Linked DNA regions of Homo sapiens. The protein of the gene in region 3 interacts with the protein of the main gene of each other region in a pairwise test. Each region holds a gene or a part of one and is shown on either strand. Other genes may lie near its edges. The genes, in order: HMOX1, SLC39A9, CRB3 and TMEM222.

Evidence for each region.
Region 1: the proteins of CRB3 (region 3) and HMOX1 interact in binary tests that used the Homo sapiens proteins (3 or more experiments, as listed by UniProt).
Region 2: the proteins of CRB3 (region 3) and SLC39A9 interact in binary tests that used the Homo sapiens proteins (3 or more experiments, as listed by UniProt).
Region 4: the proteins of CRB3 (region 3) and TMEM222 interact in binary tests that used the Homo sapiens proteins (3 or more experiments, as listed by UniProt).

Annotation. Positions count from the first base shown.
Region 1 is NC_000022.11:35,384,092-35,391,114, reverse strand, and holds part of HMOX1 (heme oxygenase 1), read right to left. Parts: intron 4,431-7,023; coding exon 3,939-4,430; intron 1,252-3,938; coding exon 1,152-1,251; intron 1-1,151.
Region 2 is NC_000014.9:69,394,849-69,401,702, forward strand, and holds the start of SLC39A9 (zinc transporter ZIP9), read left to right. Parts: upstream 1-3,843; 5' UTR 3,844-4,521; coding exon 4,522-4,617; intron 4,618-6,854. Other genes in the region: ERH (enhancer of rudimentary homolog), read right to left, coding at 1-64, 3,383-3,385. UniProt on the Homo sapiens protein: Transports zinc ions across cell and organelle membranes into the cytoplasm and regulates intracellular zinc homeostasis. Participates in the zinc ions efflux out of the secretory compartments.
Region 3 is NC_000019.10:6,459,957-6,467,283, reverse strand, and holds CRB3 (protein crumbs homolog 3 isoform a precursor), read right to left. Parts: upstream 3,014-7,327; 5' UTR 2,934-3,013; intron 2,677-2,933; 5' UTR 2,583-2,676; coding exon 2,501-2,582; intron 1,740-2,500; coding exon 1,666-1,739; intron 819-1,665; coding exon 612-818; 3' UTR 334-611; coding exon of another isoform or gene 262-333; 3' UTR 63-261; downstream 1-62. UniProt on the Homo sapiens protein: Involved in the establishment of cell polarity in mammalian epithelial cells. Regulates the morphogenesis of tight junctions.
Region 4 is NC_000001.11:27,317,684-27,325,180, reverse strand, and holds the start of TMEM222 (transmembrane protein 222), read right to left. Parts: upstream 3,019-7,497; 5' UTR 2,984-3,018; coding exon 2,790-2,983; intron 1,308-2,789; exon of another isoform or gene 1-1,307.

The DNA.
Region 1 (7,023 bases), on a different chromosome or scaffold from region 3:
AGGGGTCCGTGTGGTCTGGCACAAGTGAGAAAGCCACAAGCCAGGTAGGTTAGGGTGGCACAGGAGGGGAGGCCTAATATAACCTGCCAGGAGGTAGCTAAGCCTTACCTCTTTATTGCTACCCATCCCAAAGCCACACTCCCTCCCTCAGTGTTTTAGGCTTAGTGAGGGTACATTTTGTGGAGCACTTTGGTCTTTTTGGAAGTTTCCAAGATGTTTCAGTACAGCCAGCCTTGATCGTTCTTAGGCACATGAGGGAGGGGCTCACACACAACAAGACTCAGAAGGGACATCTTCCTGTGGTGGGTTCATAGCTGGATACAGGTCCCCAACTCCCTGGCCCACATCAGGGGACCAAAGGCCTAAAAAGGAGTCTAAATTAAGGAGGCAGGAGTTTCCCATGATTTCTGAGGGGTTCTTGTGCACTTCTGAGCCAATAAGCTAGAAGTAGCTGAACCTCACTGGATTTTACGGGTGGGGAAACTGAGGTAGGGAGAAGTCTCATGGCTTGCCCAGAGCCACACGCTGAAGGTTGACCCCAGGTCCTTTTGCCTGCACTCCACTTCTCATACAAAAACACGCAGGTGGCCGGGCACAGTGACTCACGCCTGTAATCTCAGCACTTTGGGAGGCCAAGGTGGGCGGATCACCTGAGGTCAGGAGTTCGAGACCAGCCTGGCCAACATGGTGAAACCCCATCTCTACTAAACATACAAAAAAAAAATTAGCCAGGCATGGTGGTGGGCGCCTGTAATCCCAGCTACTCGGGGGGCTGAGGCAGGATAATTGCTTGAACCCGGGAGGCAGAGGTTGCAGTGAGCTGAGATCGCGCCACTGCACTCCAGCCTGGGTGAGACTCCATCTCAAACAACAACAACAACAAACATTCAGGCTGGCATGGTGGCTCGCGCCTGTAACTGCAGCATGTGGGGAGGCAGAGGCAAGAGGATTGCTTGAAGTCAGGTGTTCAAGACTGGCCTGGGCAATATAGCGAGAACCTGTCCTTACAGGGGCAGTGGGGTGGGGCAGCAGGAAACAACACCCACCACCACCAAACATTCAGAAAACAGAGGAATAGAGATACTACAGTCAGACAGCCAAGTCCCTCCATGTGTAGCCCAGAGGAAGTGCCCCTTCCTGGATGCTCTCACCTTGCACTTTGTTGCTGGCCCGCTGGCGAAGCCCTGGTGCCCGTGAGGGGCTCTGGTCCTTGGTGTCATGGGTCAGCAGCTCCTGCAACTCCTCAAAGAGCTAAAAGACAAAAGACACACATGCCTATCTCAGTGAGAGATGCTACCAGGTCCCAGCTGAAGGTAGGACCTTAAGTTGTGTTAGGAAATACTTTGGAAATAACAAGATGGTAAGAAAAATATTGGCCGGACACGGTGGTGCGCCCCTGTAATCCCAGCACTTTGGGAGGCCAAGATGGGCACATCACGGGTCAGAAGTTTGAGACCAGCCTAGCCAACATAGTGAAACCCCATCTCTAGTAAAGATACAAAAAATTAGCCGGGCGTGGTGGTGCATGCCTGTAATCCCAGCTACTCGGGAGGCTGAGGCAGGAGAAATGCTTGAACCTGGGAAGCTGAGGTTGCAGTGAGCCAAGATCGCCCCATTGCACTCCAGCCCGGGTGACAGGGCGAGACTCTGCAAGAAAGAAAGAAAAGAAAGAAAGAAAGAAAGATAGAAAGAAAGAAAGAAAGAAAGAAAGAAAGAAAGGAAGGAAGGAAGGAAGGAAGGAAGGAAGGAAGGAAGGAAGGAAGGAAGGAAGGAGAAGAAAGAAAGAAAGAAAGAAGAAAGAAAGAAAGAAAGAAAGAAGAAAGAAGAGAGAGAGAGAGAGGAGAGAGAGAGAGAGAGAGAGAGAAAAGAAAGAAAAAGAAAGAAAGAAAGAAAGAAAGAGAGAAAGAAAGAAAGAAAGAAAGAAAATTCATATCCCTTTCATCCACCTTAAGAGATAAGATGTTCCAAGCCCAATTGGCTCCCCTGCCTGCTCTTGCCCTCCCAACCGATAACAATGATCCTGGATTTAGAGTTCACTGTGGCCGCCCATGTCCTTAGCCTGTGTCTCCATGCAAAAGGCTGCGTTGCTTGTTTTGAAATAATATTAAGTGGTATCCTAGTACATGCACTCTTCTGCCGCTGCTTTCTTCTCTTGAGTTTAGATTTGTGAAATTCAGCCTTGGTGAGGTGTGCTGAATGGTATTTGTTAGCCTTGCAGATGAGGAAACTGTAGCTCCTACAGGTTAAGTGCTTTGCCCAAGGACTGATCCAGAGGTCAGGCACTAAGAGCCGTTTTTTTTTGTTTGTTTTTTGTTTTTAATACGGAGTCTCACTCTGTCTCCCAGGCTGGAGTGCAGTGGCGCGATCTCTGCTCACTGCAAGCTCCGCCTCCCGGGTTCACGCCATTCTCCTGCCTCAGCCTCCTGAGTAGCTGGGACTACAGGTGCCCACCACCATGCCCAGCTAATTTTTTTTGTATTTTCTTTTTTTTAGTAGAGATGGGGTTTCACCGTGTTAGTCAGGATGGTCTCGATCTCCTGACTTCGTGATCCACCCGCCTCGGCCTCCCAAAGTGCTGGAATTACAGGCGTGACCCACCACGCCCGGCCAGCCAAGAGCCGTTTTTTTTTGTTTTTGTTTTTGTTTTTTTGGTTTTTGAGACAGAGTCTTGCTCTGTTGCCGTTGCCCAGGCTGGAGTGCAGTAGCATAATCATGGCTTACTGCAGCCTTGACCTCCTGGGCTCAAGCAATCCTCCCACCTCAGCCTCCCAAGTAGCTGGGACTACAGGTGCACGCTACTATGTCTGGCTAATTTTTTCATGTTTTTGTAGAGATGGGGTCTCACTGTGTTGCCAGGGCTGGTCTCAAACTCCTGGGCTCAAGCCATTTTCCTGCTTTGGCCTCCCAAAGTGTTGGTATTATAGGCACGAGCCTGAGAGCCAGTTCTGATTCCAAATCCCTTTTCTTTTAAAAACATTTTTTTCCTTTAAATTTTTTTTTATTTTTTATTTTTGATAGAGACAGGGTCTCACCATGTTGCTCAGGCTGGTCTGAAACTCCTGAGCTCAAGCAATCCGCCCACCTCGGCTTCCCAAAGTGCTGGGATTACAGGCGCGAGCCACTGCACCTGGCCCTTTTCTTTTGCCTACACTTCTCTGAAAGACACAGATTTTCTTCCTCCAAGACGGACTGGATTTTCTGAAGGGGGAGGGTGGAAGGGAAAGGCCTTGTTCCGTAACAGGGGCCAGGACCAGAATCTTCTGCAATCCACGGCTGGGAGTAGGGAGCCAGGAGGGCATGACCCCGAGCCCCAGGCCCCATGGCACCTCCAGGGGGTGGCAGAGAGAGAAGGCTCTATGACATCTGGTTAGAAGGAGCCCCTCACCCCTCCACCTCTGCCCAAGAATTCATCCTTCCAGGCTTTGCGCAAACCCCACCTTCCCCCTGGATTTGAGACACTTGTAGAAAGAGGTAAACCTCTCTGGCTAGGCTGAGAGTCCCTGGAAGGCAGAGGCCACCTGTAACCCTGGGAGTGCCAACCTGGCTATACACTAGTGCACACACAACTTATACATTGCCACAGACTGTTGTCACAGAGAGCTACAACTGATTCTCATGTCCCATTATGACAGTAGTGAATGTTTGAGGGCTTCCTCTGTGCCAGACACTGCTGTGGGGACTTTACTGCTGTAAATTCACTCAAGCCTTATAAGTCTAAGATATAGGTACCATTATTATCCCTATTTTACAGATAGGGAAACTGAGGTACAGAGAGATGAAGGCATTTGCCCAAGATCACCCAGCTAGTAAGTGGCAGTGCTGGAACTCTGGTTCCCTGTGTTAACCATGACCTATAGCACCCTCCCCTACAATGAGAAGGGTCCCTTGGAGGAACAACGGGGGGAGGCAGAGGCTGCCCCAGGCTGCCCGACCCTCACCTGGATGTTGAGCAGGAACGCAGTCTTGGCCTCTTCTATCACCCTCTGCCTGACTGCGGGAGTCATCTCCAGGGAGTTCATGCGGGAGCGGTAGAGCTGCTTGAACTTGGTGGCACTGGCAATGTTGGGGAAGGTGAAGAAGGCCAGGCCCTCGCCAGAGCTGGGCAGGTCCAGGGCTTTCTGGGCAATCTTTTTGAGCACCTGGCCCCCAGACAGGTCACCCAGGTAGCGGGTGTAGGCGTGGGCCACCAGCAGCTCGGGCTCTGTGCGCCCCACCTCGTGGAGCCGCTTCACATAGCGCTGCATGGCTGGTGTGTAGGGGATGACCTCCTGCCAGCGGGGCCCGTACCAGAAGGCCAGGTCCTGCTCCAGGGCAGCCTTGCGGTGCAGCTCTTCTGGGAAGTAGACAGGGGCGAAGACTGGGCTCTCCTTGTTGCGCTCAATCTCCTCCTCCAGGGCCACATAGATGTGGTACAGGGAGGCCATCACCAGCTGAAAGCAGAGTGAGCAGGTCAGGCCGCCAGCCACATAGAAGACCCCCACCTCTGTCCGTCCCGTCCACTACTGCCTTTGGAAAGGCCCTCCTCACTTCGCAGCTGGGCTCTGACTCCTTCTGCCACCCCTCGCTACAATCCTCTTCACACAGCAGCCAGAGGGGTTTTTACAAGAGGAAAAGACGATCATGCACTTTCTCAGCCTAAAAACCTTTTACCCCACTGGGCAAAACAAGCAGCCTAATTGAATCCTTATATAAAGATCTAACAAACTGGCCCAGTGTGGTGGCTCAAACCCCTGTAATCCCTGCACTTTGGGAGGCTAAGGCTGGAGGATTGCTTAAAGCCAGGAGTCTGAGACCAGCCTGGGCAACATAGCCCAAAACCCACCTCTACAAAAAATTATTTTAAAAAACTAGCTGGCTGGGGCCAGGTGCGGTGGCTCACGCCTGTAATCCCAGCACTTTGGGAGGCCGAGGCGGGAGGATCACAAGGTCAGGACATCAAGACCATCCTGGCTAACAAGGTGAAACCCCGTCTCTATTAAAAATACAAAAAAATTAGCCGGGCGTGGTGGCGGGCGCCTGTAGTTCCAGCTACTCAGGAGGCTGAGGCAGGAGAATGGCGTGAACCCGGGAGGTGGAGCTTGCAGTGAGCTGAGATCTCGCCACTGCACTCCAGCCTGGGCAACACAGCGAAATTCTGTCTCAAAAAAATAAATAAAAATAAATAAATAAATAAATAAACTAGCCAGCTGGACGCGGTGGCTCACGCCTGTAATCCCAGCACTTTGGGAGGCTGAGGCAGGCGGATCACGAGATCAGGAGTTCGAGACCAGCCTGGCCAAGAGACCAGCCTGGGCAATATGGTGAAACCCTATCTCTACTAAAAACACAAAAATTGGCCAGGCATGGTGGCAGGCACCTATAATCCCAGCTACTCGGGAGGCTGAGTCAGGAGAATTGCTTGAACCCAGGAGGCAGTGGTTGCAGTGAGCCGAGATCACGCCATTGCGCTCCAGCCTGGGCGACAGAGCAAGACTTTGACTCAGAAAAAAAAAAAAAAAAAAAAAAGCCAGGTATGGCTGTGGGGGTGCATGCCTATAGTCCCAGCTACTCCAGAGGCGGAGGCAGGGGTATCACTTGAGCCCAGGATTTCAAGGTTGCAGTGAGCTGTGATCATATCACTGTACTCCAGCTTGGGGAACAGAGTGAGCAAGACCCTGTCTCAGAAAAAAAAAAAAAAAAAATCCAACAAAGGAATTGCTATTCCCATTTTACAGAAAAGGAAACTAAGGCTCAGAGAGGGTATGAGACATGGAGGTTGCACAGCTAGTAAGAAATGAAACTAGATTGAAGACCGGGCATTGCCAGGGACCCACCATGGCTCAGGAGAGGGGAACAGCTGAAATGAAAGTGCTTAAAGGAGATTGGCCATGTGCTTCTGGCTTTTGACCTCTGCGTAACCAACTACAGGGCACAATTCTCCTTCCTGGAGGCCTATTCTGAACCCCACCACCTCTGCATGCTGGGCTGAGGCAACAGGTCTTGAGTGTACCTTGGCTTGGGGCACTAACTCCCGTTACACATTAATACGCCCGTTTAAATTTGAAGGAGAACAAAGTTAAGACATTTAGGTTGGAGTTTCTGAGTTATTTCTGAGCCACAAACATTCAAAGCAGCTCTATTCCTTGAGGGGACAGAAAGCCAGGCAGTCTGGTACAAAAGAGCCTGGGTTTTTGAGTGTGACGGACCTGGTTCTTACCCAACTCTGCCAGTCCTTAACTGTGTGACCATGGGTGAGCCACTTGCTTTCTCTGGTCCCAGCTTCCTATCCTATCCTAGAGCAGATGATCTGAGGTCCGTGTGACTGTGCTAGCCAACTGTGCTAGTCAGTTCCCTCACCTGCCACATACTAGATGGGGCTGGTGTGAGGATTAAGTGAGAGGATCTGGGCCAGCACAGAGGGCAGCCTGGCACTTAGCGCTCACATGAGAAGGGCTGTGATAAGTGCCACGTCCACCAGCTTAATGTAAGTGAGCACTGGATTCTCTCATGGATCTTGGCGCCTCCTTAGAACCCTGTGACTTAGAGGCAAAATCCAAAGTCTAAGCTGGCTGGGGATGGGATATTCCAGCATTCACCTCCCTGCACCCACTGTCTCCAGTCACACTGCAGCAACTGGGTGTACCTCATCTTTTTAAGGGAGAGGGGAGGAGGATGAGGAAGACCCATTACAGGCCCAAGGACCCCACCCAGCCTGGAACCACAGATTAAATCTCTCCTCATTAAAGCATGTCTCGGCCGGGTGGTGGCTCACACCTCTAATCCCAGCACTTTGGGAGACCAAGACGGGTGGATCATCTGAGGTCAGGAGTTCGAGACCAGCCTGGCCAACATGGTAAAACCCTGTCTCTACTAAAAAAATACAAAAATTGGCCAGGTGTGGTGGTGGGCACCTGTAGTCCCAGCTACTTGGGAGGCTGAGGCAGGAGAATCGCTTGAACTTAGGATGCGGAGGTTTCAGGGCACCGAGATCTTGCCATTGCACTCCAGCCCGGACAACAGAGTGAGACTCTGTCTCAGATAAAA
Region 2 (6,854 bases), on a different chromosome or scaffold from region 3:
CGTAGTCAGCATAAGTTCTGCCTTCTGGCCTCTTGGTAGGCTGTACCAGCAAAATGGTGTGAGACTGCAGGGGAAAACATGATTTCAATATAAGTTTCTATTTGAGAAATTCATAGTATGATAAAAAAAAATCCCCATTTGTAATGCAATAATGATTGCTAGTTATTAAAATGTAATTAGAGAGGCCAGGCATGGCATCCCATGCCTATAATCCTCATCCTCTGGGAGGCTGAGAGGGGGAAAATCACTTGAGGCCAGAAGCTTGAGACCAACCTGGGCAACATAGCAAGACCCTGTCTCTACAAAAAAATAAAATTTGCCGGGTGCATGCCTGTAGTCCCAGCACTTTGGAAGTCTAAGGCAGGAGGATTCCTTGAGCCCAGGAGGCTGAGACTGCAGTGTGCCATGATCACACCATTGCATCGGAGAGTGAGGCCCTATCTCTTAAAAGAAAAAAAAAAGTCATTAGGATACTTTTCCCACAAAAATATTGATGTCTTAGTCTAAGTATAGTATCTAGCTGGATTCACAACTCTGCTGTACGGTCTCCCTAAGTCTCCCAGTCCTACCGTACTTACTGCCTACAAGTAATCAGTATAAGCTACCTTGCCCTCCTTTTCCTTTTCTATCTTTTCTTCCCAACTAAATTATAAACCTGCTTAGGTTTTCTGTCTCCAGTGGTCACTTTCCATCTTTAATGCTCTTAAGTCACTAATAAAAACTCAGATGGGCTGATGAAAGGAAACAAAAGGGGAAATAGTATAATAATCACAAGCATGGTTTCAACTTAAGCTTTTTTTCCAACCTCAGCGTAAGAGCAAAGTCACATTTTATCCAGGGGTTAGACTTAACATTAAAGCAGTAGATAAATTAGCAATATAAACATATCATAAGAATTACCCTTAAAAATCCATTAAACTATTCACCTAGTAGATGACTTGCCTTACTGGGCTTTCTCATACCAAAATCACATATTAGAATCACACAGAAAGTTAGGTCATCACACTATGAGAAATGTGAAATAATGCCCATAGCAGACAGACTTGTCTTCCACTTCGTGCTCACTGGGAAACATGTTTTTGTTAGTGATCAGTCACTAACAAATCAATCTCAGTGTTTTCTCAACGTGGGCTCTATTACCTTTTGGGTTGACTGATTCTTTGTTACAAATGTCCCTTGGGGAGCAAAAAATCTCATCCAGCTGAGAATTCACTGGTCTGTTGAAAATATGACCCATCCAATTTTCTGCTACATGTGTAAGGTTAATTAAATGCAAGTATGATGCAACTCCACTGTAAATCCAGTCCCAAATCAAACTATTCACCTTTTTCCTTCTCTTCTGCTGTACTAGTATTTTTCAGCCAAAAACCAGAAAACAAAAATTTCCTAACAGGAACCCTAAACTGTTTTGGAATAACATAATTTTTTTTTGGAGACAGTTTTGTTCCTGTTGCCCAGGCTGGAGCGCAAAGGCGCGATCTCAGCTCACCGCAACCTCTGCTTTCCGGGTTCAAGCGAATCTTCTGCTTCAGCCTCCCAAGTAGCTGGGATTACAGGCATGCACCACCATGCTCGGCTAATTTTGTCTTTTTAGTAGAGATGGGGTTTCTCCATGTTGGTCAGACTGGTCTTGAACTCCCGACCTCAGGTGATCTGCCTGCCTCGGCCTCCCAAAGTGCTGGGATTACAGGCGTGAGCCACCGCGCCTGGACAAAATGATCAGAATTTTTAACCATCAAATTGGAACAGAAATAGCTGAAGCCCAGACTTTCTGAATAAACAATGGAAAAATAGTACATTTAACATGACATGCAAAACCAAGGGTTATCATACCCTTCTCTCCCCATCAAGAACTAAACCACTTTGACTAAAAGTTTCAGAGGGTTTGACATAAAAACGGAACTTGGTGACAAGAGACGAAGGATTAACTCTCACCTGTAATAACCTGAGCAGTCAAAGCCTTTGTTAAATCGATTTAAAAGCCACAGAAAGCATCATATTAGATTATTTGTTATACAGAAGTCTTTGTAAGCTAGCTACTCAAAAAGTTTCAACGAGTCATTTAAGAAAAAATAATTTTGTAGAAACCACGTGCATTCTTGCAACAGAGGTTGCCCTATACACTAGCTATCTCAACTGCTACTATAATAATTGTATTCCAATTCTAATGCAAATTAAAGGACTAATTTGAAAGGGTAAGAATGGAAAAAGCTATACAGCATGTTGCTTTTTATATCTAGTCTTAAAATGAACACCGGGCAAAGTTTACTATTTTCAGTACTTACTGCCCAAAGACAAGGATTAAAAATCACTAAGAACATAACATGATACATTTTAAAAACTGTGGTCAAGTGGTTATCATTTTTAAATGGCAATGCTTTCCTGCTCAAATTCTTTACAGATTATACCACCTCTCAAGCCAGTTTTGGTCACTTTCTTCGAATTGGAGCTTACTGATCATCCCGGTTGGGTTCTAATAGAGCTGGTCTCTGAGCTGAGCCTACTTTTCAGCCTCCAGCCCCAAGAGGATATAAATACAGATAAGTACAGGATCGAGGGCTGAGGGACGCGCCACACGCAATACCTAGAGGTCTCAAAAACAGGAAAAAAAAAAAAAAGGCAGAGCACAGGAAAACGAAAGCTGAAAAAACACTGCAAAGCAAATACGTCCTCTCCTGGCCCACATGCTGGGTATAGCTGGATCTGTCAGCTTCGAGAATAGTTAGACAACCCTGGCCCATTGTTCCTACAGCAGGCTAGAGCATTTGGAGGGAAAAATACCATATCCGGCAGGGCCCGGTGGCTCACGCCTGTAATCCCAGCACTTTGGGATGCCGAGGCGGGTGGATTGCTTGAGGTCAGGAGTTCGAGACCAGCCTGGCCAACATGGTGAAACGCCGTCTCTGCTAAAATAAAAAAATTAGCCGAGCGAGGTGGCGGGCGCCTGTAATCCCAGCTACTAGGGAGGCTGAGACAGGAGAATTGCTTCAACCCAGGAGGCAGAGGTTGCAGGGGTCTGAGATCCCGCCACTGCACTCCAGCCTGGGCGATAGAGTGAGACTCTCTATCTCAAAAAACAAAACACCTCCCCCACGTCTCCCTCTACCGAGTAACAATCGGGAGAGAGTTCATCCTCAGGCCCAAGGCACGCCGGACCCGAGCGAGCAGGCGGGCGCGCAACCGCAGGGCGGACCGGGGCTCCGAGGCCTAGAGTCAGGCCTGGCGTCCCTGCGGCGGGAAGAAGGGTCAATCCACCGACTAGAGTGGCGGGGAGCATCACGCGGCGCTGCATGGGGCTCGTGGGGAGGGGAAAACGTATGGGGCTGGGGTCGCTCTGGAGGCCGGGGACTCGGACTCGGGTAGCCGCGGAGGCCTTTCTCACCATCGCGCCAAACTCTCTTCGCTACAGCAGCTGCCGACACCGCCGCCGTTACACGAGCTTAACTACAACGCCGCTAACAGCCAATCCTCGCGAGAGGAGCCGCCGGAAGTCGTCGAAAGTGCAACGCAAAAGAGCCTTTTGGATCATAGAGGCACAGTCACTTCCGGCAGCTAGAGCAGCTACTGACTCTGTTTCAGCCATCTTCGATAAAGGCAAAAAGGTAAGGGAAAGTTTCCAAGCTTTAGGAAGAATTATTTTTTTTCAAGACGCTGTCTTCCGTACTTTCGTTATTAAACATACGGCTCAAGTGATCACCGGTATAGACAGTGACATCAGACATCTTTCATTAGCCCTACTCAAAAATGGCGGCAACGTAAGTATCCTGGGCCGGAGGTCGGTTGTAACCCGGAAGTGCCTTTGTAAAGGAGGGGGTGGTTAGACAATCCGGAAGTGGATGGAATGAAGAGATGCCACTTGGCGGCCATGGCAGCTGTAGTATCGGCGACTCCGGGTCAAGGCCCGGTCGAGTGCAGTACCATGGGCAGCACCGGGTATAGGGCAGAGACAGCTTTGTGTCAACTTTGCTGCTGAACCCCTAGGACCCATCGTTAGAGACCTGCAGGACTCCTTTCCTCATCCCAGGCTCGGAGGAGAGTTTGCTGGGACTGGTGGGCTGGTTTCCTGCTCTGGGGGGCGGATCACCTTCGGGGCCGCCTCTTGGAGACAGGGGCGCCTAGGGAACGAACAGGTTCGCTTGAGTCACTTACCCGCCGCCGCCTAAGACATTGTGCCACCCTCAATCCGACAATCGAAGAAATCGATCATTCGCACATTTTCCCCATTGACTTTTCCCATCTCTGTTAACCCACGAGAATCTAATGACTGGCATCTGAGAACCCAGAGCCTGGGACCTTAGATTGCTGTAAGCTTTCTCTGGTGCTAATATCAGCAAAAAGGGTCTGTTGCCGGGTACGTTCAAGAGGAAGGTGCCTCGTGAACACATCTGCTGGTGGGAAGGCCTAAAGAACTGGAAAGCCCACTCTCTTGGAACCACCACACCTGTTTAAAGAACCTAAGCACCATTTAAAGCCACTGGAAATTTGTTGTCTAGTGGTTGTGGGTGAATAAAGGAGGGCAGAATGGATGATTTCATCTCCATTAGCCTGCTGTCTCTGGCTATGTTGGTGGGATGTTACGTGGCCGGAATCATTCCCTTGGCTGTTAATTTCTCAGAGGTAAGAAATTCTCAATTTTCTGTCAGCTGTCAGGATGGCTGTGAGATAGTAGTTTTAGTTGCAAAGGGAAGCTGCTTCCCTAGTTAAATCTCAAAGCTGAAGGTCTCATTAAGAAAGACTATCTTTTTTAAAAGATACATGACACTTAATAATAGAAAGAAACCTCATATTCATTAGTGGAATTCTTAACCTGGGGTGGATAGATATTCCACGGAAGATCCTGGAGTATTCTGAATCCCCTAGAATTGCTTACAAAAATTTGAGGTTCTGTGCATTTACCTGGAGAGAGGCACCATAACATTTCTTTTGATTCTCAGAGGTTTCATGGAATCAAGATTCCAGATTGTTATCAAGAAAATAAATGGAGGGCTGGGCGCGGTGGCTCACGCCTGTAATCTCAGCACTTTGGGAGGCTGAGGTGGAAGGATCGCTTGGGCCCAGGAGTTCTAGACCAGCCTGGGCAACGTGGCGGGACTTTGTCCCTACAAATGAGGCTGAGGCAGGAGGATCGCTTGACCCCAAGTGGTTGAGGCTGCAGTGAGCCGTGTTTGGGCCACTGCACTCCAGCCTGGACAGCAGAGTGAGATCCTGTCTCCAAAAAAGAAAAAAAAAGAAATGGAGAATGTTATTTTTCTACATGAACTGAAATCAATATGATAACTTCCTTTTGAGAAAGTCAAACACACCTTTCTGAGGAAAGCTGTTTTGTTTTTTGGATGTCTGTACTAGAATGAATGTAAGAAAAAACTAAGATTGTTCTTAACTCACATTTCCTTTTAAAGAAGGGGAGCCTTGGAATTGATATTCTGAAGTTGTTTCAAATCTATTTGCTTAGCAATGAATTTTTGGTTAATACGTTTTGACATTTTCGTTAATTTGATTGGCACCTTGAACAGATGTTAAGCGAGGGTCCCGGGAAGAGGGATAGATGAAAGCACTGTTCAGTGAACATGCTGATAGGTCCTTTAGGTAGGCAAAAGGAATTCACGAAGTGCACAGCGTTCAAAGATTTAGGGGGGAAAAACTACTACATTCAAAGGGAACAAGATTTCATGAGTTTGTCCTAGAGTTCAGCAGTAAAATAGGCCCTAGTTTCAGTGCCATTCCTGAAAGTACTTTCAAAGGAGGCCTGAAGTAGAAAGGAAAGGTATAAATGAAATATTAAGTACACCTTGAAGAAACCTGAGGAAGAGGAGACATTACAGGTGAAAATAGCCTGTGGGTGGGAAAGAAGGTGGGACAAGGTGTTGTCAGTTTGAGGAAAAGTAAAGCCCATAGCCAGATGGAACAGATGCTTAAATTGTTGTTGTTCTTTTTCTGTTTCCTTTTTAATCTGTACCCCTCAGCATCTAATGATAGCATTTTAAAAAATTACGTGCATTACCTAACTTCACTTAAAAAACTCAAGCTGGGTGCGGTGGGGCGCGCCTGTAGTCCTAGCTACTCAAGAGGATAAGGTAGGAGGATTGCTTGAACCCAGGAGTTGGCCTGGGCAACATTGAGACTCTTTCTCTTAAAAAAAAAAAAAAAGAAAATAAAAATCAGTGACATATAGATGAGGAAACGGAGACTGGATAGGTTCATGAAGTTTGTTAGAATCAGAAGAGAGGTATTTTTTCAGTCTAGCTTTTCTGACTCAGACTAGTTCGTAGCCACTAAGCATTTCGGCAAAGGTACATGGTACATATACATGGTAGCCTGTGTGCCAAATCCAGCCTGCAGACTGTTCCATTAGCAGAAGTTTATTATTGTTGTTCTTTACCAGTATTTCCTAGAGGCAAAGGTTGGGTCGGGCTGAGTAGCAGCTGTTAGGCACAGTCCTCCTTGCCCTTGAAGCCTGTTTCACTTATTTGGGTTACCTGCCTGCCCAGTACTTTGTGAACCTGCTATGTTTCCTTTGACATAACCATATTTTCTTATAACTATATTAGAATTGAATTGACATTAGTAGGGCTGACATGTGTGAGATTTGGGTTGGTTTGTGTATTTTTAAACATATTGAAGTAACATTTATGAATAATCATAATTAATTCTGATAAGCAACCAGTAAAACTTTTTATTTCTATAAAATGCCTTTAACTTTACCAATTCCAGTATTTTTTCAAACTACCTTGAATGATTATTGCAATATGCGGATATATACTATTTCCTTTTTCACTAGAAGGAAATGTTTACAGGAGTGGTGTTAATAACTGGGTCATTAATACAGATAATTAGTATGTCATGTCATTTGTGGC
Region 3 (7,327 bases):
CTCGGCATTTGTCACTTCCATCTCAGCTAATGCACCCACCAGCTCAAACACACCAATAAAGCTTTTGTTACATCTCACTACTAATTTTATATAAATATATAAAAGTGAATAGCCCCATCCTCTCTTGACCTCAGGGGCAGAGTCTTTGAAGTACCTTCTTCCCTGCTATTAAGCACTGGGTGGATCTGACTGCCCAGAGAGGGCACTGCCTTTCCCCAAGGTCACACAGCAATGAAGGGAGACAGATGCAGGAGAGGGGACCTAGATGGGCAGGCAGCCCTGCACCGTCTCCTTGGAGTCCTGAGGGGCCCGGGCCTCGGCTGCATGGGAGAACTGAAAGAAAGGAGAGGGGGTTGTGGGGCCTGCTGGACACACAGAGAAAAGTTGGTTCCGCAAGCAGGGGGGTGGGTCCCGAGCCCCAGCACCCTGAGCTGCAGGCACAGCCAAGCAGAGGCAACATGCTGCACAGAGCCCACCACATGGGTGCCCCCAGCCTCTCCCCACAAGTCCTCCTGAGCCATCAGAGGCTGGTGTCTCGGTGGCAGCTGCGGTGTACAAGCCAGCAACCCGCAGTCCTGGGCAGTGTTGGTGGCTGCAGCAGGCCCCAGCGTTCAGATGAGCCGCTCTTCCGGCGGCAACTTGAGGTTGGGGGTCGGTGGCACGCGGGCACCCACCTGCTCCTCGCTACTGGGCCGGTAGGTGCCCTCCGTCTGCCGCTTCTCCCGAAGCTTCCGCACCAACAGTGCCAGCCCCACAGCCAGGAGCAAGGCAGCCAAGAGGGAGAAGACCACGATGATAGCAGTGATGGCTTCTGGACGCTGCAGAGAGGGGACAGGTGTGAATCACCTGAGCCTGGGTAGCCTGTCCACCTCCACCTGAATGGCATCCCCCTCATCACCCCCTACCCCACAACACACACACACACATACACACATCTGCCACTTTTGGTGATCTGATCCCCACAGTGGGGCTTCCTGGATCCCTACCTACCTTGTCTGGGGTGCGAAGGCTCCCCACCACCTGCCATGTCCGGGACACCCCTCGCAAGCACCTGCCATGTCTGGGACTCCGGCTTTTTTTTTTGAGACCGAGTCTTGCTCTGTTGCCCAGGCTGGAGTGCAGTGTCACAATCTCGGCTCACTGCAACCTCCGCCTTCTGGGCTCAAGCAATTCCCCCTGCCTCAGCCTCCCAAGTAGCTGGGATTACAGGTGTGTGCCACCCCGCCTGGCTAATTTTTTGTATTTTTAGTAGAGACAGGGTTTCACCATGTTGGCCGTGCTGGTTTCAAACTCCTGACCTCATGATTTTCCTGCCTCGGCCTCCCAAGGTGTTAGGATTACAGGCGTGAGCCACCGCGCCCGGCCGGGACTCCTGCTTTCATCACATCTACCAAGTCTGAGCTCCTTGCTCCCCCACCCACCTGAGAGGCATATGGAATTCCTGAGCCCACACATCTGACAGCTACAGTATTCCTGCCCACTCCCTCCAGGGTGTCCTAGTCTTCTTGGTCTAAGACTTCAGGTCTCTCCTACTTAGAGCTCTCCAAAGCCACCCTGACCTGCCACCTCTGGGGGGAGGGGGTGTCTAGTCCTCTCTACATGCTATATGTGTGACCCCTAGATAACATCCTTGCTGCCATCTTCCCACATATACCTCCAACTCACCAGGTTGCCATCGGAGCTGGAGCTGGTGGATGAAGGCAAAACAGTGCTATTCTCATTTGCAGAAGTGGTCTGTACTGTGGAGGGTGAAGGCAGAGAATAACTCAGTCTCCATCTTTCTCTCCCATCCCCGCCCATCTGCACCTGCTTTGGGCATTCCCCTTCACCTCCCCCTAGCAGGTCCCAATTCAAACTCTGCCTTTCATTCGCACAGAGATGGTTGGGTGTCTTGCAGGTAAGACCTCTCCCTTGGGTGTTTGCTCCCCAGGACACCCCCCCGACCCAGTCCCGCAGAGCCCAGTAGGGTGTCCAGAAGTCCACCCCTCCCCTACTCACCTCTCGGCCCTGGGCCCTTAAGGATCTGGGCGGGCCTAGCTTTTCCCTGGAGTGTCTGACTCACACCTCCCCACAGGCTCCCAAAACAAATCTAAGACTGAATGGCTGGGGTCTACACCTTCAGCCAACCAGGTCGACCCGGCTCGGCAGGCCTCCTCCCAGCTCCCAGTTCACCCAAAAACACCTGCACTATACCAAGACTCAGGTACGCAGCCCTTACCTCCCCCCAAGTCCTACTTAGGAGCCCCCACTCCAACACACAATTCCACCTCGCTGGGGAACTCAGGTCTCCTAGACCAACTCCCAGTGTCCAAGGAAGAAACTAGAAATCTTAATCCCCCCGAGCCCTAACCCTGTAGACCCCTCCCCAAGGTATTTCTTCCCCGCTCCCCAATTCTTGACCCTCTCTGCGCCCCAGATACCCAGCGCTTCTAAGCCACGTCCCCAGCAGAGATCCAGGAATCCAGACCCCTCCCCCCCAGCGCTCTCAGCTGGTACCTACTTTGCCCCCAGGCTCGGCCCCAGCGGGCCAGCAGGAACGGCAGGCCCAGCGCCAGAAGCAGCCCCAGCCCGGGGTTCGCCATGGGCTGGGTGGCGGGTTGGCAGCGCCGAGGAAGGGGCTTCTCGCGCTCGCCCCTCCTACCGCATCTCCGGCCAGGGGCACCTGCGACGGGGCACCTGGGGACAGGAGAAGGAGAGGCCCAGGCGTTGGGATCGGGGTGGGGACCCCGGCGCAGGCCCACAGGAGAGACAACTGGCGCCAGGGCACCCATGAGTCCCGCCCCGCCCCAGCCGCCAGAGGTCAGCGATTAAAGATTAACTCCCAGGAGCGCGTTCCTGGGCTGGGGAAAGGAAGGGGACGGGACGGGACGGGACGGGACGGGCAGGGTGGACGGGCGAGGGGGCAGGCCTAGCGGTGCGTCCTGCCTTCCTACCTGGCCCGGGCGTCTTTGACCTAGCTCAGGTTCCTGGTCCGTGTCCCTCCCTCGAACCCTCGGTCCGTCGGTCGTTCTGTGGGTCCGACCCCACCGGCTCCGCCCTGTCACGTGACCCGGAAAGTTTAGTCACTCACCTGGGAGAGCGCACTTCCGGCTTGTGCACCTGAGCCTCGCTGAGAGGGCGGAGTCAAGAAGGGGGCGGGGCCGCGCTGTGGGCGCACCTGTAACGGGACCCCAGTCCCTTAATGGGGATGCGGGGAGGGAGACCGCGGAAGCGCGCAGGTGTGAGGGGGACCTTACACCTGCATTGCGAGCATATCTGTGGGAGCGCACAGGTGTGGAGACGCACGGGGTATGTATGTACCCGTGCACTAGGCACTCCTGCCTAGGGCAGACTTGGATGGGGAGCGCTTAATGAGAAAAAATACCTGCCCAGGCGCAATGGCTCACGCCTGTAATCCCAACACTTTGAGAGGCCGAGGCAAGAGGATTGCTTGAGGCCAGGAGTCCGAGACCAGCCTGGGCAACACAGCGAGGCCTCATTCTCTACAAAAAATAAATAAATAAATAAACAAATAAATAAAAAGAAGAAAATAAGCCGGGGGCGGTGGCGTGATCCTGTAATCCCAGCGCTTTGAAAGGCCGAAGTAAGAGAATCACTTGAGGCCAGGAGTTCGAGATCAGCCTGGCCCACAGACGGAGGCCCCATATTTACAAAAAATAAGAAAATTAGCCAGATGTGATGGCACGCACCTGTAGCCCCAGCTACTTGGGAGGCTGAGGTGGGAGGATCGATTGGGCCCAGGAGTGGAGGTAACAGTGAGTGAGCTATGATTGTACCACTGTACTCCAGCCTGGGTGACAAAGTGAGACCCTGTCTCTAAAAAAATTTTAAAAACAAAAAAACAGCTGTATGGTAAACACCTGTGTGGAACCAAACCTGTACAGAAGACAACTGCACAGGTGTTCACATATAAGAACATACAGAAAACAGATGGCCGGGTGCGGCGGCTCACGCCTGTAATCCCAGTACTTTGGGAGGCCTAGGCAGGAGGATCACCTGACGTCAGGAGTTCGAAACCAGACCAGCCTGCCCAACATGGTGAAACCTTGTCTCTACTAAAAATACAAAAATTAGCCGGGTGTGGTGGCAGGTGCCTGTAATCTCAGCTACTCGGGGGGCGCTGAGGCAGGAGAATTGCTTGAACTCAGGAGACAGAGATTGCAGTGAGCCGAGATTGCACCATTGCACTCCACCCTGGGTGACAAGAGTGAAACTCCATCTCATAAAAAAAAAAAAAAATCTGCATTGAATCACAGCTATACGAAATATAGCCAAGGCTGGGCATGGTGGCCCACGCCTGTAATCCTAGCACTTTGGGAGGCCGAGGCAGGTGGATCACGAGGTCACGAGTTCGAGACCAGCCTAGCCAAGATGGTGAAATCCCCGTCTCTACTAAAAAATAATCAAAAATTAGCTAGCGTAGTGGTGGGCGCCTGTAATCCTAGCTACTTGGGAGGCTGAGGCAGGAGAATCGCTTGAACCCTGGAGGCGGAGGTTGCAGTGAGCCGAGATCACGCCACTGCACTCTAGCCTGGGTGACAGAGCAAGACTGTCAAAAAAAGAAAAGAAATATAACCAAATGGATACATACCACCAGGGTGGACAGTATCTCTATAGAACACGCCTGCATTATCATCACAAACAGCTAACTAAGGCACTCTGATGTGGAATAGACCTGTTTTAGGAACATATCTGCATGGCTCACCTATGAAATGTACGGCACTTGCATTGGGGGAATTCCTGGGTGTCAGTGTCTTGTAAATACCTGTATGAGACACACCTGCATTTACGTAAACCTGTATGGGACTCGGTTGTATGGAAACATACCCAGATGGGTGTATACTTAACTGAAACACACCTACGGGGCGGGAGACTGTAGAATGCATTCATGGGTGGAGGGAAACCTGCTCAGAAACATACCTGTGAGGTAAGAGAAAGCACCTTGTAGGAGGAACACCTGTATGGAATTGAGCTCAAGTGAGGGGAAGAACTTGGAACATCTGCACGGGGCACACTCACATTGACACACATCTGTGGGTAAAACCATCAGGGCAGGGGCTCACATACACTGAGGCCCACCTGTCAAGAATGTATCTGTGAGAAAACACCTATTTAGGGGCACTTACATGGAAAAAAACCTCTGTATCACTCCATGCTGTATGGCACCTGCAAGGAACAACTGTAAATGAAAACCTCTGCTGGGGAGCCTCTTAGAAGAGACTCATTTGTCTGGGGCACACCTGTTCCAGCACACCTGTCTAGGCAGAGGCTGGGCGTGAACTAAATATGCCCTCACGACTGTATCTTTGTTTTCTTTCCTTTTTAAAAAAAATAATAATAATTATTATTATTATTTGTAGAGTTGGGTGTCTTGCTATATTGCCCAGGCCGGTCTCAAACTCCTGACCCCAAGCGATCCTCCCATCTCGGCCTCTCAAATTGCTAGAATTAGAGGCCTAAGCCACCGAGACCGGCCAATGCTGTATCTTTGGATAAAGGATGATGATAATAACAAGACCCCCTCCTGAGGACCCTTGGGTGACAAGTGATGATTAAAGAATAATTAGGCCAGGCCGGGCGCGGTGACTCACGCCTGTAATCCCAGCACTTTGGGAGGCTGAAGCGGGAGGATAATCTGAGGTCAGGTGTTCGAGACCAGCCTGGTCCACAGGTGAAACCCCCCCCCCCCGTCTCTAATAAAAATACAAAACTCACGGCTGCGGTCGGGCATGGTGGCTCATGCCTGTAATCCCAGCACTTTGGGAGGCCGAGGCGGGCGGATCACGAGGTCAGGAGTTTGAGACCAGCCTAACCAACATGGTGAAACCCCGTCTCTACTAAAAATACAAAAATTAGCCGGGCGTGGTGGTGTGCGCCTGTAATCTCAGCTACTTGGGAGGCTGAGGCGGGAGCATTGCTTGAACCCGGGAGGCGGAGGTTGTGGTGAGCTGAGATCGTGCCATTGCACTCCAGCCTGGGCAATAAGAGCGAAACTCCATCTCAAAAAAAAAAAAAAAAAAAAAAAAAAAAAAAAAAAAAAAAAAAAAAAACTCACTGCTGCGTGCGATGGCTCACGCCTATAATCCCAGCACTTTGGGAGGCTGAGGCGGGCGGATCACGAGGTCAGGAGTTCGAGACCAGCCTGGCCAACATGGTGAAACCCCGTCTCCACTAAAAATACAAAAATTAGCTGGGTTTGGTGGCGGGCGCCTGTAATCCCAGCTACTCGGGAGGCTGAGGCAAAAGAATCGTTTGAATCCGGGAGGCGGAGGTTGCAGTGAGCCGAGATCGCGCCATTGCACTCCAGCCTGAGCAACAACAGCGAAACTCCGTTTCAAAAAAAAAAAAAAAAAAAAGATAATTAATTCTTTCTAGGGTATAGAGTGATGGTTAAGGATCCCAGATCTCTTTAAACCCTGTTTTGCCCCTTAGTGGTCATCAGGACTGGGGAGAATGACTTAACCTCCGCTTCCTTATCTGCAAAGTGCGAACGCCAGTACCACCTACCTTATAGGGTTTTGGCAAAGACGACTCGAGAGGTGAGTAAAAGCCCTGGCATGTGCAAAGCACTGAATCAAAGTGAGATTTGTTATCGAGTATTCGCTGTCAAGTGGTCTGGGCTCCCTTCCCCCTAATGGTGGATCGAGAAACTGCGCCCGAAACTAGCAGTAGGGACATTCCGCAGGTGCAGCGAGTGCGACAGGCTGGGGCCCTGCCTCCAGCGCTCGACCACTGGGATCCTCAACCCCGCGCCCGGGTCACTGAGCCACCCCCTCCCCACGCCGCTCAGCGTCTGATTGCGGCCGCGGCCCCTTTAAGATCTCCTGGCAGGCGGTGGGACTGCGGGCTGGAGGCAGTCGGGGGTCTGCGGGGAGGCCCCGCCTAGGTGGGAGAAGAGGCGGGGCGGGCGGGCTCAGCCCAGGAGGCGCTGACCAATAGGAAACCGACTTTGCAGCCGCGCCGCGCGTTGATTTTCTGTTTCCCAGTCAGAGTGGGAACCGAGAAAGGAAGCGCGCGGGCGGGAAGAAGGGACAGTGGGAGAGCATCGCTCCTGGATCTTCTGTTTCTGCGGCCGAGCGGGGAAGGTGTAAGGCGCGGGCGGGCAGAGAGCGAGCGAGATGGTGCACGGTTCTTGCGTGCGTCTGGGAAAAGCGAGAACTTGAGTTCCTGAAGATTAGTGGGTGTGGCGGGGAGGTCAAGTGGAAGGGGATTATGAAACCCAATCCCCGACAGCGCTCTACCTTGCCCCCTTGGGCAAAGGGGGAAAGGGTAAACTGAGGCACGCAGAGGCGGAACTCTGAAACCAGACCTGAGACCACTGAGCTCC
Region 4 (7,497 bases), on a different chromosome or scaffold from region 3:
GGGGGTAGACAGATCTTTGGGTTCCATTTCCTCCTCTGATCTCTCCTCCAAAGACAGGTGACAGTTACTTGCGCCACATCTATGCCTAGCTCTGCAATCATCACTATACAGTAATACTACGATGGCTAATTGACCTTTCTCTCCCTCCTGCTGGAGGTGAGTCCTTTGAAGGTGACATGGTTTGGATCTGTCCCCGCCAAATCTCCTGTCAAACTGTAGTCCCCATATTGGAGGTGGGGGCTGGTGGTGGGATCATGAGGCTGGTTTTCTCATAAATGGTTCAGCACCATCCCTTTGGTGCTGTTCTCGTGATAGTGAGTTTTCCCAAGATCTGGTTGTTTAAAAGTGTGTAGCATCTCCCCCCTCACTCCCTCTTGCTCCTAATCCCGCCATGTGAGATGCCTCCCTCCCCCTTTGCCTTACACCATAACTGGAAGCTTCCTGAGGTCTCCCCAGAAGCAGAAGCCACTATGCTTCCTGTATAGCCTGCAGAAGCATGGGTCAATTAAACCTCTTTTCTTTAGAAATTATCCAGTCTCAAGTATTAGTGCAAGAATGGACTAACACAGAAGGGAACATGAACCCTTTGACAGGAACACAGTGTCTTATTCATCTTGGTCTTATGAACACCTGTACACAGATCTGAATAGAAATGGGCTATGAGCTGCTTTTGGCCCAGGTGACAAGGGATTGTGGTGCCTCCACCTCACGCTGCTACCATTCTCCGCAGAGGACCACGCCACAGATGGTGTTTTTGAGAATAAGAAAGGCTAAAGAGAGTTTAGGATCACAAGACAGGTTTTAAGAAAACCAATACATTTCCTGAGTATCCCTCCCAGTTATTTTCTTTTTTTTTGAAACGGAGTTTTGCTCTTGTTGTCCAGGCTGGAGTGCAAAAGCACGATCTTGGCTCACCGCAACCTCCACCTCCCGGGTTCAAGTGATTCTCCTGCCTCGGCCTCCTGAGTAGCTGGGATTACAGGCATGTGCCACCACCCCGGCTAATTTTGTATTTTTAGTAGAGATGGGGTTTCTCCATGTTGGTCAGGCTTGTCTTGAACTCCTGACCTCAGGTGATTCGCCCGCCTGGGCCTCCCAAAGTGCTGGGATTACAGGCCTGAGCCACCACGCCCGGCCCCTGTTATTTTCACACTAATATTTTATTTTCTTCACAGCACTCATCACTATCAGGTGCTCTTTTATTAGCTTACTTGTTTACTGTCTATCTCCTTCCACTATGACTTAAACTCTCAAAAGTCTAAAGACCATATCTCCTTTATTCATCACTGTATATTCGCATCACCTAGAACTATCTGGGAACACAGGGGTCACTTAGCACATGTGTTAGAAGAACACTGAATGAATTAATGTGCACATTTTCCTAAGATTTTATTTCACTATTTATTTTGAGACGGAGTTTCACTGTGTTGCCCATGCTGAAGTGCAGTGGTGCAATCTCGGCTCACTGCAAACTCCACTTCCCGGGTTGAGGCGATTCTCCTGCCTCAGCTTCCAGAGTAGCTGGGATTACAGGCACGTGCCACTATGCCCAGCTAATTTTTGTATTTTTAGTAGAGACGGGTTTCGCCACGATGGCCAGGTTGGTCTCGAACTACCTACCGATCCACCCTCCACTGCCTCCCAGAGTGCTGGGATTACAGGCATGAGCCACCGCGCCTGTCCCAATATTTTATTTTTAAAGAACAGATTTGGATGCTCTTATATGCATAAGTACTTGAAAACACAAAATAATTCAAGTATTTTAACATAATTCAAAAACTACGATCTTTTTAGAATCAGCAACACCTAAGGCCCCAAATGATCCCTTCTCCACATCACCACTGGCTGTTATTGATAGCGGAACAAGCTATCCCATCAGGTGAGAGTGGATAAGATGTAGTGCAAAGAGCAAGTTAGATCAGAAGACTGAGCTCTTCATGCCTTTGCTTATTGGGGTGCGAACCTGATCAAGACACTTAATGCTACAAGCAGCTCAGCTTCACCATCTGAGAAGATAACCTACCTTAGAAAATGGATGTTTAATTCTGATAAAATGGGTGTTTAAGAGCTTGGCAAACTATCCAGCACGGTGAGGAGGGGTTACGTTTATCAGCTGTCAAGGTTGAAGCAGGAGGGCAAACCACCTCTCCCCATATGAGAGCTCCTCCCAAAAGGCGCCAAGTAGTACCAGAGCACCTGCTTCTCCCCTGACAAAGGCTGATGTTACAGAAAGAACTTTGGTCTGGGAGGCAGACAACCTGGGATCTAAACCCAGTTTGCAACTGAGATGGCACGTGAGACAAAGGGTTGGACTCTCAGATCTCTGGGGGCCCTTCCAATGTTGACATCCCAGGATCTCGTGTGGTCCCAACCAAACTCCCACTCTTGCTCCCAGACCCAGCAGTATGTCTGGAATATGGTAAGCGACCAGTAAGCATTTGCTCAATGAGAGAATAAACCAGTGAATTAATAAAAATGTCTCCTCAGATCCGATAAGGGGCTCCCTCTTCTACACACTCACAGCTCGAGTCTCCCAGCCACTTGCCCTTTCCTGCTGGCCTACAACTCTCTCCCTGGCTACACCAGGTGTATTGAGAGCAGGGAGCGTGTCCCAGCCGTGTGCACAAACTGGCACTACATGGATGGCGGGGTTCTGGTGACTGGGCGAGGCGTGCGGGCCAGACCCGAGGAAAAGGCTTGCTGCGCGTTGGGGCCGGAGGCTAGCCCGGCCCGACTCCGGCTCTCCCTGGGCCCTCCTCGTCCCCAGGCGGATGCCGGAAGAGACTCACGTGAGCACCGGGATGGGCGTCCACACCACGCAGTAGGGGAAGCGACTCCGTTCCACATCCATGGCGACGCCGCCGGAGCCTTGATATTGCTTCATGTCCGTCTCGGCCGCCGTCGGCGCCTCCACTTCCGCCATCCTGGGCGGGGGTGGCGGCGGCGGCAACAAGAGCAGAGAACTCCCTTCCGCTTCCGCCATGCGGCGCGCGCCCCGCTCCGACTGGCCCCGGCTCTGGTGCCGCTCGTCCCCATGGCGTCACTTCCCGGAGATGGGGTCCGCCCCGCTTGGCCTTCCCCCGGGAATCCGAGCCGCGTTCCTCTGGGCCCGGCCAGCCCCGCCCCACTCCCTATGCGCCTGCCAGCCCCGAGTCTTTGCCGCTTATGCCCCGCGGCTGCAGAAGGGATGCTCTCAGGCAGTTCGCAGTCTAGCGCCGGAGACTTATAGAGAACTCTAATTCAGTACGCTGAGGGCTCCTAGGAGGTGTGGTACAGTCGCTATTTATTGAGCACTTCTTAGGTGCCAAGCACTTGACATGAATTGTTTCTAATCCCCATAAACTAATTAGACATCCAAATTAGGTATTCCCTCCTGTTACAGGTGAGAAACTGAGGTTCAAAAGGTGAGAGACCACGATGCAAACCCAAGTCTTTTTTTTTTTTTTTTTTTCTGAGGCGGAATTTTTTCTCTTGTTGCCCAGGCTGGAGGGCAATGGCACAATCTCGGCTCACTGCAACCTCCACCTCCCAGGTTCAGGCGATCCTGCCTCGGCCTCCCGAGTAGCTGGGATAACAGGCGCGTGCCACCACGCCCGGCTAATTTTTGTATTTTTAGTAGAGGTGGCGTTTCACCATGTTAGCCAGGATGGTCTCAAACTCCTGACCCTGTGATCCGCCCGCCTTGGCCTCCCAAAGTGCTGGGATTACAGGCGTGAGCCACCGCGCCTGGCCCAAACCCAAGTCTTATACCTCCCTTGCCCTTTTCATTCTGTGGCCCTCTCACGAGGTAGTGGTAGCATAAAGGAAGACACACACAGTTGTGTGTGCGCACGTGTGTGTGTGTGTGTGTTTTATTGTATATACAGGGAAGACTTGCTGGAAGATAGGATATTATTGAGTTGAGTCTTGATGTTTGCCATGTGGCACAGGAGTGGAAGTATGAGTGCAGCGGTACAAAGAAAGGAAGGCCGTGCAGAGCAGTGTGTGCAAGAGTGTGAATACTTACTGGAGTAAATCATAAGCCTTAGATGTGATCCAATCCCTTCATTGTACAAATGGGAAAACGGGCTCAGGGAAGTTAATTGTTTGAGATCACACACAACCATAATTAGAGAGAAGCCAGGCTCAAATGTTGGAGACTTTTGGCTTTTTAAAGGATGTCAAGACAAAGAAAATGAAGTCTACTGGGGTCTACTGGGGTGGGGAGGGGAAGTTGGGGACAGCCCAAAGTCAGAAGGAAGGCTGCCACTAAAAATCAGCCTTAAAGAAAAAAAAAAAAGAATAAAAAGAGTAATCAGGTAAAGGAAGGTATGGACAAATGCACTCAGGAAGTTAGGAGCTTCCCATTTGGGGAAGGTCCTTCTTCCACTGAATTACCCTCCCTCAATGCTGATCTATGGAGAGCTTGCTGTCCTGTTTGTAGCACCTAATATTTTCATGTTTTTTTGTGGGGGATGTCTGTCTCTGCTATAGAACTCTAAGGTCCTTGACTTCAGTAGCTGGCACAGTTCCTGGTGCAAAGCATATGCCCACTAGATGTTTACTGATTTATTAGGTGATTGAATAAATGGATGTTTTATAAAGACCTCAGAGATTCGCAGGCATGATAATGATTACAGTGGGTTAGAAAATGATTCTAACCCACTCCAAATTCTTTGAGCACGTTTGTACCTCTCCTTGACCCCTGTGCAGTGTGTGATCCTTGAAGGGCAACAACCAGCATCCAGCACAGGGTTTGGAATAGATTAGGTGTGTAGTTTACAGTTGTTGAGAATAAATTACATGACTTCTTGATTCAATCACTGTAGTTATCTAATCTCTTCTGGACCACAGGCTGTGAGGAAGGTCTGTGCCTTAGACATCTCCCTACCATGACTGTCAGCCCATAATTCTAGCACAGGGTTGCTGGGTACCCTTTAAACATTTATTGTAGGTATTGATGAATAAACAACCAAAGTAAGTCTCTCAGGGCCTGCCACAAGTTTGGTAGTACTAATACACGTACCACATTTAATCTGCCAAACTTCAATGGCTTCCCGTTGCACTTCGTATGAAACACAAATATCTTACTATGGCTCACAAAGCCCTGCACCATCTGGACCCATGCCCCTTCCTTATTTACTATACTACAGCCATCCTGGCCTTTTCTTTCAGTTCCTCTCATGCACTCCTTCATATTCCAGGGACTTGGCACACACTGTTCCCCTCTGCCTGAAATACTACTCCTATCTACTTAAAGCGGCTAACTTTCATTCTTCCAGTCTCAGATCAAATATTACTTTCTCAGCCCATCCCTGGTCTCCCAATCTAAATGAGAAAGCCCCCATTAATCTCCTGTTCTTTTTCTTCATAGCTTCTTTGTAGCTATGTACTATTTGCCTCCCCCACTTGACTGGAAACTCTATTTGTCTTGCTAACGTGTGTATACCCAATGCCCAGTATAGTGCCTAGTGCATGGTATTTGTTTAATCAATATTTGTTAAATTGAATGAAAGGCAAATACTTACAGGCTTGGTATCACGTGCTGGTTACAGTCTAAACGCAGGAACCTGCTACCTCTTGGTGTCCCAAACCTTTTCAATGGGCTTGGGTTGGTGGGAACAGTGCTCAGGCAGAGGATCAGACCACAGAGCCCTGGCTCCTTTCCTAAGGTCCACGTCATCCTACCCTTGGCCTAGGCAGCTGCAGAAACGTGGCATGAGGAGGGCCGGGTACCTGGAGGTAGAAGCCAGATCCTCTGGTGCCTGTCCCACAGGCTTGCCCCGCACCACAACCCATCCACAAGATTTTTTTTTTTTTTTTTTTTTTTTTTTGAGACAGAGTCTCACTCTGTCACCAGGCTGGAGTGCAGTGGCACAATCTTGGTTCACTGCAACCTTTGCCTCCTGGGTTCAAGCAATTCTCCTGCCTCAGCCTCCCCGAGTAGCTGGGACTACAGGTGCGCAACACCACACCCAGCTAATTTTTGTATTTTTAGCAGAGATGGGGTTTCACCATGTTTGGCCAGGATGGTCTTGATCTTTTGACCTTGTGATCCACCTGCGTCAGCCTCCCAAAGTGCTGGGATTACAGGCATAAGCCACCGTGCCCGGCCTTTTTTTTTTTTTTTTTTTTTTAAATAATGGATTCATCCCTGCAGAACACTCCTTCTCACATATACACCTTGGTTCTCTCACCCAATTGTAAGAGTCTCTCTGGCCTGTGCCCTGGACTCCTCTGCTGTTGCTTCCTTATCACCCATAAACAGATGGGAAATCTCCATCAAAGACTAATATTTCCTTCCAGGCTCACAGGATCACAGCAGGGTCCTGGAGGAAGCTCCTGTTATGGCTGAGCTTGGGACAGGATTGATAGGTTTCAGAGCTATCCCTCCCCCAACACACACCCCAACCTAAAATAGGAATGACCATCTGGATCCACTTATGGGTTTGGCTGGGGGAGGGAAGGATGCCAGAGCTGAAACTGTCAAGCTGGGAAACCTTTGAGGGTAAGATGCTGCTTGTTTGAAGGGTGAGCTTGGGGCATTTCCTCTCTTGGTGGGAGTCAGCGCACCCCCTCAATTGGCCCCATGTATAAGTCCCCAGGACTCACAAATCTCCTCTTTCAGGATATCTCGCTCCTGGCATTCAAGGCCCCTCATGATGCCCTCAAATTTTCCTTCCAGCCTCATTTCTCACAGTCTCCTTCGGGACTTGCCTGGAGTTAGCCTCACTGGCCTGTTTGCCCTTCACAGAACAAGTCCTGCACTTCATACCCTGTGTGTTGGCTCACACCATTCCCTCATCGGGGATGTCCTTCCTTTCCTCTTCTACACTACTTTCAAGGTTTCAGGCAAATGCTCCCTCTTTGCTCCCAGAGCACGAAGGCTGTGTTTCCACCTATTGAATATTCATGTGTACTTGCATTAGCATTAGCTGTTTACATGTCTGTCGCTCCCAAGAGACTGTGAACTCCTTGAGAAGGGGACTAACTGGATCTATTGGTCCCTGTATCCAACTAGGCAACTGGCAGAGAGGAAGTGCTCAGGTAATGTCACTGGAGTTATTTGTTGACTGTAGATGTCTCCTTAAGGGCTCTGGGGAAGAATCACCTCAATCCAGGGAAAGAGCCTGAGCCAGGGGCATGCTGCAGTATATGCAGCATGTGGGAGGACAGCGTACTCTCTTCTGCTCAGCTTCATCATTGCCCTCTCTGGCCCCTGGAAGCTGGGCCTCTTTCCATTATGACTCCAAACCTTCCCATGGTGGGGAGGAGATTAAGGGGACCAACTCAGTGCAATAAACTATTTCAGAGCAAACCCACTGGTCCTTTAGACATCAGAGTTCACAAAACGACTTCCTTTTCCATTCCATTTTTTTGTTTTATTTGGAAATGGAGTCTCCCTTTGTCACCCTGGCTGGAGTGCAGTGGGGCCATCTCGGGTCACTGCAACCTCTGCCTCACGGGTTCAAGTGATTCTCCTGCCTCAGCCTTCTTAGTAAGCTGGGATTACAGGTG